2 linked regions of the Homo sapiens genome follow. The protein of the gene in region 1 purifies or fractionates together with the protein of each later gene. This does not show direct contact. Each region holds a gene or a part of one and is shown in the gene's direction. Other genes may lie near its edges. The genes, in order: OR52N4 and RBP1.

Evidence for each region.
Region 2: the proteins of OR52N4 (region 1) and RBP1 purify together in Homo sapiens (affinity purification with mass spectrometry; one large-scale study listed by BioGRID and IntAct). This does not show direct contact.

What each region holds. Positions count from the first base shown.
Region 1 is NC_000011.10:5,752,808-5,756,778, forward strand, and holds OR52N4 (olfactory receptor 52N4), read left to right. Parts: upstream 1-1,435; 5' UTR 1,436-1,498; intron 1,499-1,885; 5' UTR 1,886-1,933; coding exon 1,934-2,899; 3' UTR 2,900-3,151; downstream 3,152-3,971. UniProt on the Homo sapiens protein: Odorant receptor.
Region 2 is NC_000003.12:139,529,708-139,533,534, reverse strand, and holds part of RBP1 (retinol-binding protein 1), read left to right. Parts: intron 1-3,827. UniProt on the Homo sapiens protein: Cytoplasmic retinol-binding protein. Accepts retinol from the transport protein STRA6, and thereby contributes to retinol uptake, storage and retinoid homeostasis.

The sequences.
Region 1 (3,971 bases):
CTCTCTCTCACTTTTTAAAAAGATTTTTCTATTTCTAATAGCACAGAATAATTTGATCCGTTTTTGTATTTCATTTAAAGATCACAAGATGTTACATCTATTTTAAGTCTTTCTAAAAAAAATTAACACATATTGTGAGATTCGTCTATATTATGCATATAGTCATAGATTGTTTATTCTTATTGTTACGTGGTATTTCATTGTGGGAATGTACCAAAATTTATTTACCCATTTGATGTTGATGAACATTTAGGTTTTTTCCAGTTTTAGGCTATACTACAAATCATGTTTCAATAAGCATTCTAATTGATGTATTCTAGTAAATATATATACATAGTTTTGTTGGAAATGGCAATGGTGGTCATGTGTATGTTTATCATTATGAGATATCTAATAAAGAGTTGTTCTAATTTACATGTCTACCAGCAGTAAATGAGAGTTCCAGTTGTTCTACATCTTTGCCAATGCTTGGTATTTTTAGTTCTTTTCATTTTAGCTGTCCTGTTTGGTATGTCACTACATACCAAAAAAAGGTGCTTTGTCATGAGAGATACAATTTTTACTTATTTTTCTGATTAATATAAAAGTTTGTGCCTATTTACCTGTTCATTGGCAATTTTATTTCTCTTTTGAAGTGTATGTTTCTTCCTGCAACTTTTTCTTACTGATGTTGTTGAAGTACTTTATATATTTTCTGTATGTATGCATTTGGATATCTTCTAGTTTGCGTTGACTAGATACATAAAGAACAAGAAAGATATCTTGAAAAGTGAAAAAATTGAATCAAAACTTCATTGACTTTTTTAATTTTAAATTTTTGTGGGCACATAGTAGGTGTATATATTTATGGGTGTATGAGATATTTTGATAGAAGCATACAATGTGTAATAATCCCTTTTAAAGGGCCGGGCACAGTGGCTCATGCCTGTAATCCCAGCACTTTGGGAGCCTGATGTGGGTGGATTACCTGAGGTCAGGAGTTGGAGACCAACCTGACCAATATAGTGAAACCCCATCTCTGCTAAAAATACAAAAATTAGCTGGGCGTGGTGGCATGTGCCTGTAGTCGCAGCTACTCGGGAGGCTAAGACAGGAGAATTGCTTGAATCCGGGAGGTGGAGGTTGCAGCCAAGATTGCGCCACTGCACTCCAGCCTGGGCAACAAAGCAAGACTCTGCCTCAAAAAAAAAAAAAAAAAAAAAAAAAAATCCCAGTAAAGTAAATAGGGGTATCCATCATCTCAAACATTTATCCTTTGTGTTACAGACAACCCAATTATATTATTTTAGTTATTTTAAAATATACAATTAAATTATTATTGAGTATAGACACCCAATAAATTTACTAATTTTTGAGACCCCAAGCTTCATTGAGTAATAATTTAATTAAAATTTCAAAATTCTTTGAACAGTGCCTGAGTACCCAAGAATAAATATCAGTCAGTCATTAAGAATAAAAATTAAAAAGTCAACATCTCATCTCTCAGATCATCAGTGAGGTAATCAAATGACTCTTCTTTAAAATTATATCTATATTGAGATGAGTATAGTTATAGTTAAGTAAGATATTCTAATAAAAATACCATTTGAAAAGTCAGAATTATACTTGATTATAAATCTATGAGATTGGGAATATGTCTTTTTATAAAATAATTGATGTTTGATTGGCATCTGTGTTGAAAACTTAGACTGCTCAATAAGAATTTTTTACTGAATCAATTAATTAATCAATCAATAAAACTAAACAGACAAACAAAATTATTTCTTGGCACTCAGAAATTTGGTTGTTGGACCATTAAAATGCATTATGGAATTTTTAAAAGTTGGGGGAGAGGGAGACAGTAAAAATAACCTATATTTTCTCTTGTTTTTTTTTTTAACTCTAGGAAAGCCCAGACAAATTTTGAGCTATTTCATAACCTACCAGACTTATCATGCTAACACTGAATAAAACAGACCTAATACCAGCTTCATTTATTCTGAATGGAGTCCCAGGACTGGAAGACACACAACTCTGGATTTCCTTCCCATTCTGCTCTATGTATGTTGTGGCTATGGTAGGGAATTGTGGACTCCTCTACCTCATTCACTATGAGGATGCCCTGCACAAACCCATGTACTACTTCTTGGCCATGCTTTCCTTTACTGACCTTGTTATGTGCTCTAGTACAATCCCTAAAGCCCTCTGCATCTTCTGGTTTCATCTCAAGGACATTGGATTTGATGAATGCCTTGTCCAGATGTTCTTCACCCACACCTTCACAGGGATGGAGTCTGGGGTGCTTATGCTTATGGCCCTGGATCGCTATGTGGCCATCTGCTACCCCTTACGCTATTCAACTATCCTCACCAATCCTGTAATTGCAAAGGTTGGGACTGCCACCTTCCTGAGAGGGGTATTACTCATTATTCCCTTTACTTTCCTCACCAAGCTCCTGCCCTACTGCAGAGGCAATATACTTCCCCATACCTACTGTGACCACATGTCTGTAGCCAAATTGTCCTGTGGTAATGTCAAGGTCAATGCCATCTATGGTCTGATGGTTGCCCTCCTGATTTGGGGCTTTGACATACTGTGTATCACCAACTCCTATACCATGATTCTCCGGGCAGTGGTCAGCCTCTCCTCAGCAGATGCTCGGCAGAAGGCCTTTAATACCTGCACTGCCCACATTTGTGCCATTGTTTTCTCCTATACTCCAGCTTTCTTCTCCTTCTTTTCCCACCGCTTTGGGGAACACATAATCCCCCCTTCTTGCCACATCATTGTAGCCAATATTTATCTGCTCCTACCACCCACTATGAACCCTATTGTCTATGGGGTGAAAACCAAACAGATACGAGACTGTGTCATAAGGATCCTTTCAGGTTCTAAGGATACCAAATCCTACAGCATGTGAATGAACACTTGCCAGGAGTGAGAAGAGAAGGAAAGAATTACTTCTATTTGCCTCTTATGCAGGAGTTCATAAAATCTTTCTGGAAGCACTGTATTGATCACAAAATGGAGTTTGTTAACTGGTGCATTCTCAATAAGTACCTTGGGAATCTCAACATCATTGGAAGGCCCACCAACATTTCTATAAATTTTTTACCTTCTCACTCATGTGAAGGACCAGTCTAATAATTAAACCATATTTTATTCGACAAAACCTAATGAGTCCATTTTTTATGAAAAGACAAATCTAAGTAGAAGGAGATGATGTGAGTCTTCTTTTCAATGATCACAATTTTCAGATTAATATTTCAGATTAATAGCCAGTTATTACTTTTGTCTAGAAAACATGTGCTATATATTTCTCATAACTACCAAAAACCTGTTTCTTCAATGACATTTTCCTGAAGGAGAATCTAGAGTGCATGCCATAAAGTCTAAAATGAGTTTTAAGTCTCTAAGCATCTAGCTAAAATATTATTAGGCTGAATAGGTCACATAATTATTTCACAACAGAATAATTGGATATTTCGTTTTCTTTAAAGGGGCTTTTTAAAAAGCACAGAGCCTGGAAAGAGAGGTAGAGATCTTAACCAAAAATAAAAAACAGTATAATTTTTTTCTAAGACCTGTATGAAAGGGGATCAAAATCTACTTGTTTCATTTTATCTCTAATTGTGAATCTAATAAGGAAAATTAGGTATATATTTCTAATATTTAAGATTTATCTAAATTAAAAAACAAGTGAGAAACTATAGAACATAGTATTTTCATATTAATGTCTCATAAACTAAGCCAATTATATAAGGAATATAAACTCAACTTTTACTGTTATTTTTCTGTGTCCAACTGACAAGAAAACATGTACTTCCCTGAAATTTAGTTAACTATAGTCGTCAAATTGCATTTATTCACTTAGTGAATCCTTCTTGACTATGTTGCATTTTACAAGCTGGCCAAACAGCAGTACCCACTAAAATATTATTATCCTCCATGTATCGCCCTATTTCAATATTTGCTACCCTAAAGCTAAAAGT
Region 2 (3,827 bases), on another chromosome or scaffold:
CTTACACATTTTTCCATATCAGCACTTACAGATTTTCTAAGTTCTTTTTTAACCGTCTATGTTTCCTTTCCTTCCCTCCCTTGACTTCCTTACTTACATCCTTCTATTTCTCCACCCATCCATCCATCCATCTAATTATATATGGTAATACATGAAATCCAACAAAGTACTGTTGACACTTTGGTTTAAACTCTTGCCAGCTTTCTGATCCTATTCTTGACCCATTAAAGAGATTTTTTGATTTGTTTTAAAAAACACACACACACACACGCACACACAATGCCACTGGCTAAATTAACTCCCTGGGCTGCAGCGCTGAGAATGCCGTTGGATGTGGGAGCCTCTGAGAGCTGCCCCTGCCCAGATCAGGCACCCGGCATTCAGCTGGGCCCTTTCCAGGCTAGAAACACAGGATCTCTTTCATGTCTTAGCTAAAGTTCTCCGACCTTTGAAATCGGTGTCAGCAGCGTGCTTTTGAGGATTACAAAAAGAAGAATTAAAGCAACCCAAATAAAATTCACAAAGTAGCTTTCAAAAATCACACTGCTTTGTTGGGTTTTGGGTTTTGTTAGGCAGGAACAAAGGAAAATAACATGTACTGAATCTTTACTAAGTGCCATGCCTGCCCCAATTGCTTTTTGTACTTTTTCTCCTTTGGTCCCCACAACAAATGCTGTTCAGTAAGTATCATTATACTCATTTCACAGATGAGAATCTGAGGCTCAAAGAAGTGAAGTGCCTTTTTAGCCCAAGGTCACCCTTGGGCTAGCTGGTGGCAGAGGAAGAATTCTAATTAGTCTGTTTATAAAGCTCTCTACCCCAAGGTCTCCCACAGAGCTTTGCTGAAGGCCAGCACCTCAGTTCCTTATTGTGAGCCTTCTCACAGTCTGAAGGTAAACCCAGGCAGTTTTGACAAGGCCTAGGATGAGTGAAAGGAGCACCGGTATTAGAGTCAGAACATCTATTTGAATTCTTCTCGATTATCTGACAGCGGCCTTAAATGATTAGACACACTGCCTTTGTTTTCATATCTGCAAAACGGGCATCATAATTGCTGCTCAGCGTGTCTCACAAGGCAAAGCTGAGGACCATAGAGATAGTACAGGGCACATGAGCTTGGGAAGCCACAATACTATGTGAGAACAGGGCCAGGGCCTGTGATACCCGAGACTGAGGGGCATGGCATAATCACTTATGATGGCCAGGTATTTACTGAATGAATTACAGCTGTTTGTTTTTCTGACCAACATTGTTCCTCCACCTCCCACCCAAGAGAAGCACTGTTTTCTTTATGGTGGGAATTACTCCTCCTCAACCTTTTGGGTCCTGGTGGGGCTGCAAATCATAGTACCCTGTCTCTTCTGGGAAGAGCACCTTCTGATAGGGTGATCACAGTGTCCCGTGGCCTGTCACATACTTGTGTATGTGGCCCAAGCTGGGCCAGTCACCATTTCCTGGGAGTTAATTTAGGAACCCTGAGAGACAGGTGAGTTCTATTCCGTTAAAGGTTGATGAGCTGTTATGATGTAAGCTTGGTGTTCTCTGAGGCCAGTCCCCTTACCCCACCTTCCTTAGCTGCATGGAAAAATCCAATTGAAGGAAAGTAAAAGATGAGGCCAATAGAGACAGAGAGAATGCAACATTAGAGGGTTACTAGAGTTCCTGACGCACCATTCCTAGATTTTCCATGTACTTCAACCAATACATTTTTTTTCTTTCACCTTAAGTTATGTGAATTGGTTTCCTGCCACTTGCATCTGAAAACATCCTAAGACATTCAAACTCCAGATATCAAGCGTTAAGACCCACATAAGTAGTTAGAGCAGTGGTTCTCAAATTTGAGCATGCCTTACCCCTAGAATTTCTCATTCTGAAAGTCTGGGGTGAGGCTTGAGAACTTGTTTTTCTAACAGGTTCCTGGATGATGCTGATGCTGTTGGTTCAAGGACCATGCTTTTGATAACTACTAACAAAGAAAAACAAGGAAGCAGGCTGGCCTGTGCCTAGTTTCCTGTGATTTTTCTCATCATGATTCAATGTAATAAGCCTGTGCTGGGGTAAAATGTGCCTAGTTCTAGGGGATGAATGAGAATAGGTAGGTGTAGCTCCATCCCAGGATCAGGGTAGTGGGGGATGAAGACTGCCTGGGGACCTCAATCTTGCAGCAGCCCACAGTGGTTTGCAATTGAGGGTCCAAGTAAGTGATACCAATAGTGTGTGCAGCTGGACAGGTGTGAGGTACAACAGAGCAATTAGGAGCTTTGACTTTGAGATGGACCTGGATTTGAATCCTGGTTCTGCCGTACAGCTGTTTCCTTGGCAAGGGTACTTTATCCCTCTGAGCTTCAATGTGCTCATTTGTAAAAGGAGCCAAGGGTAATACCCACCTAATGGAGTTATGTGAGAATTAAATATGGTGATGAATTATTTCTGTTTCCTGTTGCTGTGTAACAAACCACTCTGAAACTTAGTACCCTAACTCAACAATATTTATTTTGTTCACAAATCTGCAATTTGGACAGGGCTCAGTGGGGATGCCTTGTCCCTGCTGCCTGCCCTGCCAGTGGGGAGGTAGAGGATCCACTTTCCAGATGGCTAACCCACACTTACTCTCTGCTGGGTGCCTGGGCTTCCTCACTACGTGGCAGGTAGTTTCCAAGAATGCAAACACCATAGGGTGCCAGCTACCTTTAATACAGGGATTAGTGCGTTCTTCCTTTCTTCCTTCCTCTTCCCACCCCTTCCCTCTTTCTTCCCTCTGTCTTTCCTGAACTGAGGGTCCAAGGATAGCATAGGAATACTCTGGGAAAGAATGGTATAAACAAGATGGGTGTGAAGGTGGGGATGGCATGGAACCCAGTCTCCAAAACCTACCTTTGCCAGCTTTACAGTGGAACTGGTCCTGCACTAAGAAAATAAAAAATAATAATAATAATCTTCTCACAATGTGCAATAAATCAGAAAATCATCTTACTCTTTGACTCAGGGATCCCACTTATGGGATTATATTCCAGGAAAATCACTCTATTTGTACAAAGGTATCTGTTAGTCACTCTGTGATAATAATTCTCAACAACCCACAGAAGCATAACCACTATCTCAGGGCCTACTATGCGGCAGGCCCTGCCCTGTCATTTTATGTTTATTTAATCTCCTAACAATCCTGGATAGGAGGTGCTACTCTCCCATTTTACAGACAGGGAGCCAAAGGTCCTGCCCAGGTTCACATTACTGATTAACCATAGATTTGTGATCTCACTTCGGATGTCTCTGATTCCCTACTTTGTATGGTTTTTATAGAACAGGCTGTCTCCTGCTGGTATACCTAAATATCAAATAACTATGGGTGGTTAGAAAGACTGGCTTTTTAATTCCATAGACCACTATGTAGCCGTGTAAATGATCACTATGAAGATAAATGAAAAGTTTTTATAGGCATTCAGTCACCAAGTTCCATAGATTCTGCTTCTTAACGTCTCTTCCTGTTTTTCTTCATTCCCACTGCTCTGAATATCTCGTGCCAGTAATAATAATAACAATTAACATCTCTCGTGCTTACTGTGTGCCAGGCTCAGCGCTTTCCATGGATTATTTCATTTAATTACTGCAGTATCTTCACATTCATCTCCATTTTACCATGCTCAACACTTCAGCCCATCCCTCCCTTTCTAAAAAGGGAATCTGATCATGCTACTCCCCAGCTCAAAATTCCCAAGGGCTTCCCAGTGCTGATGGGTAAAAGCCAGATGGCACTCAGGCTCTTCAGATCATGGCCCTGCCTGTCTCTCCAGCCCTATTCCTTCCCTCACTCCTTATGCTTGGCCCCA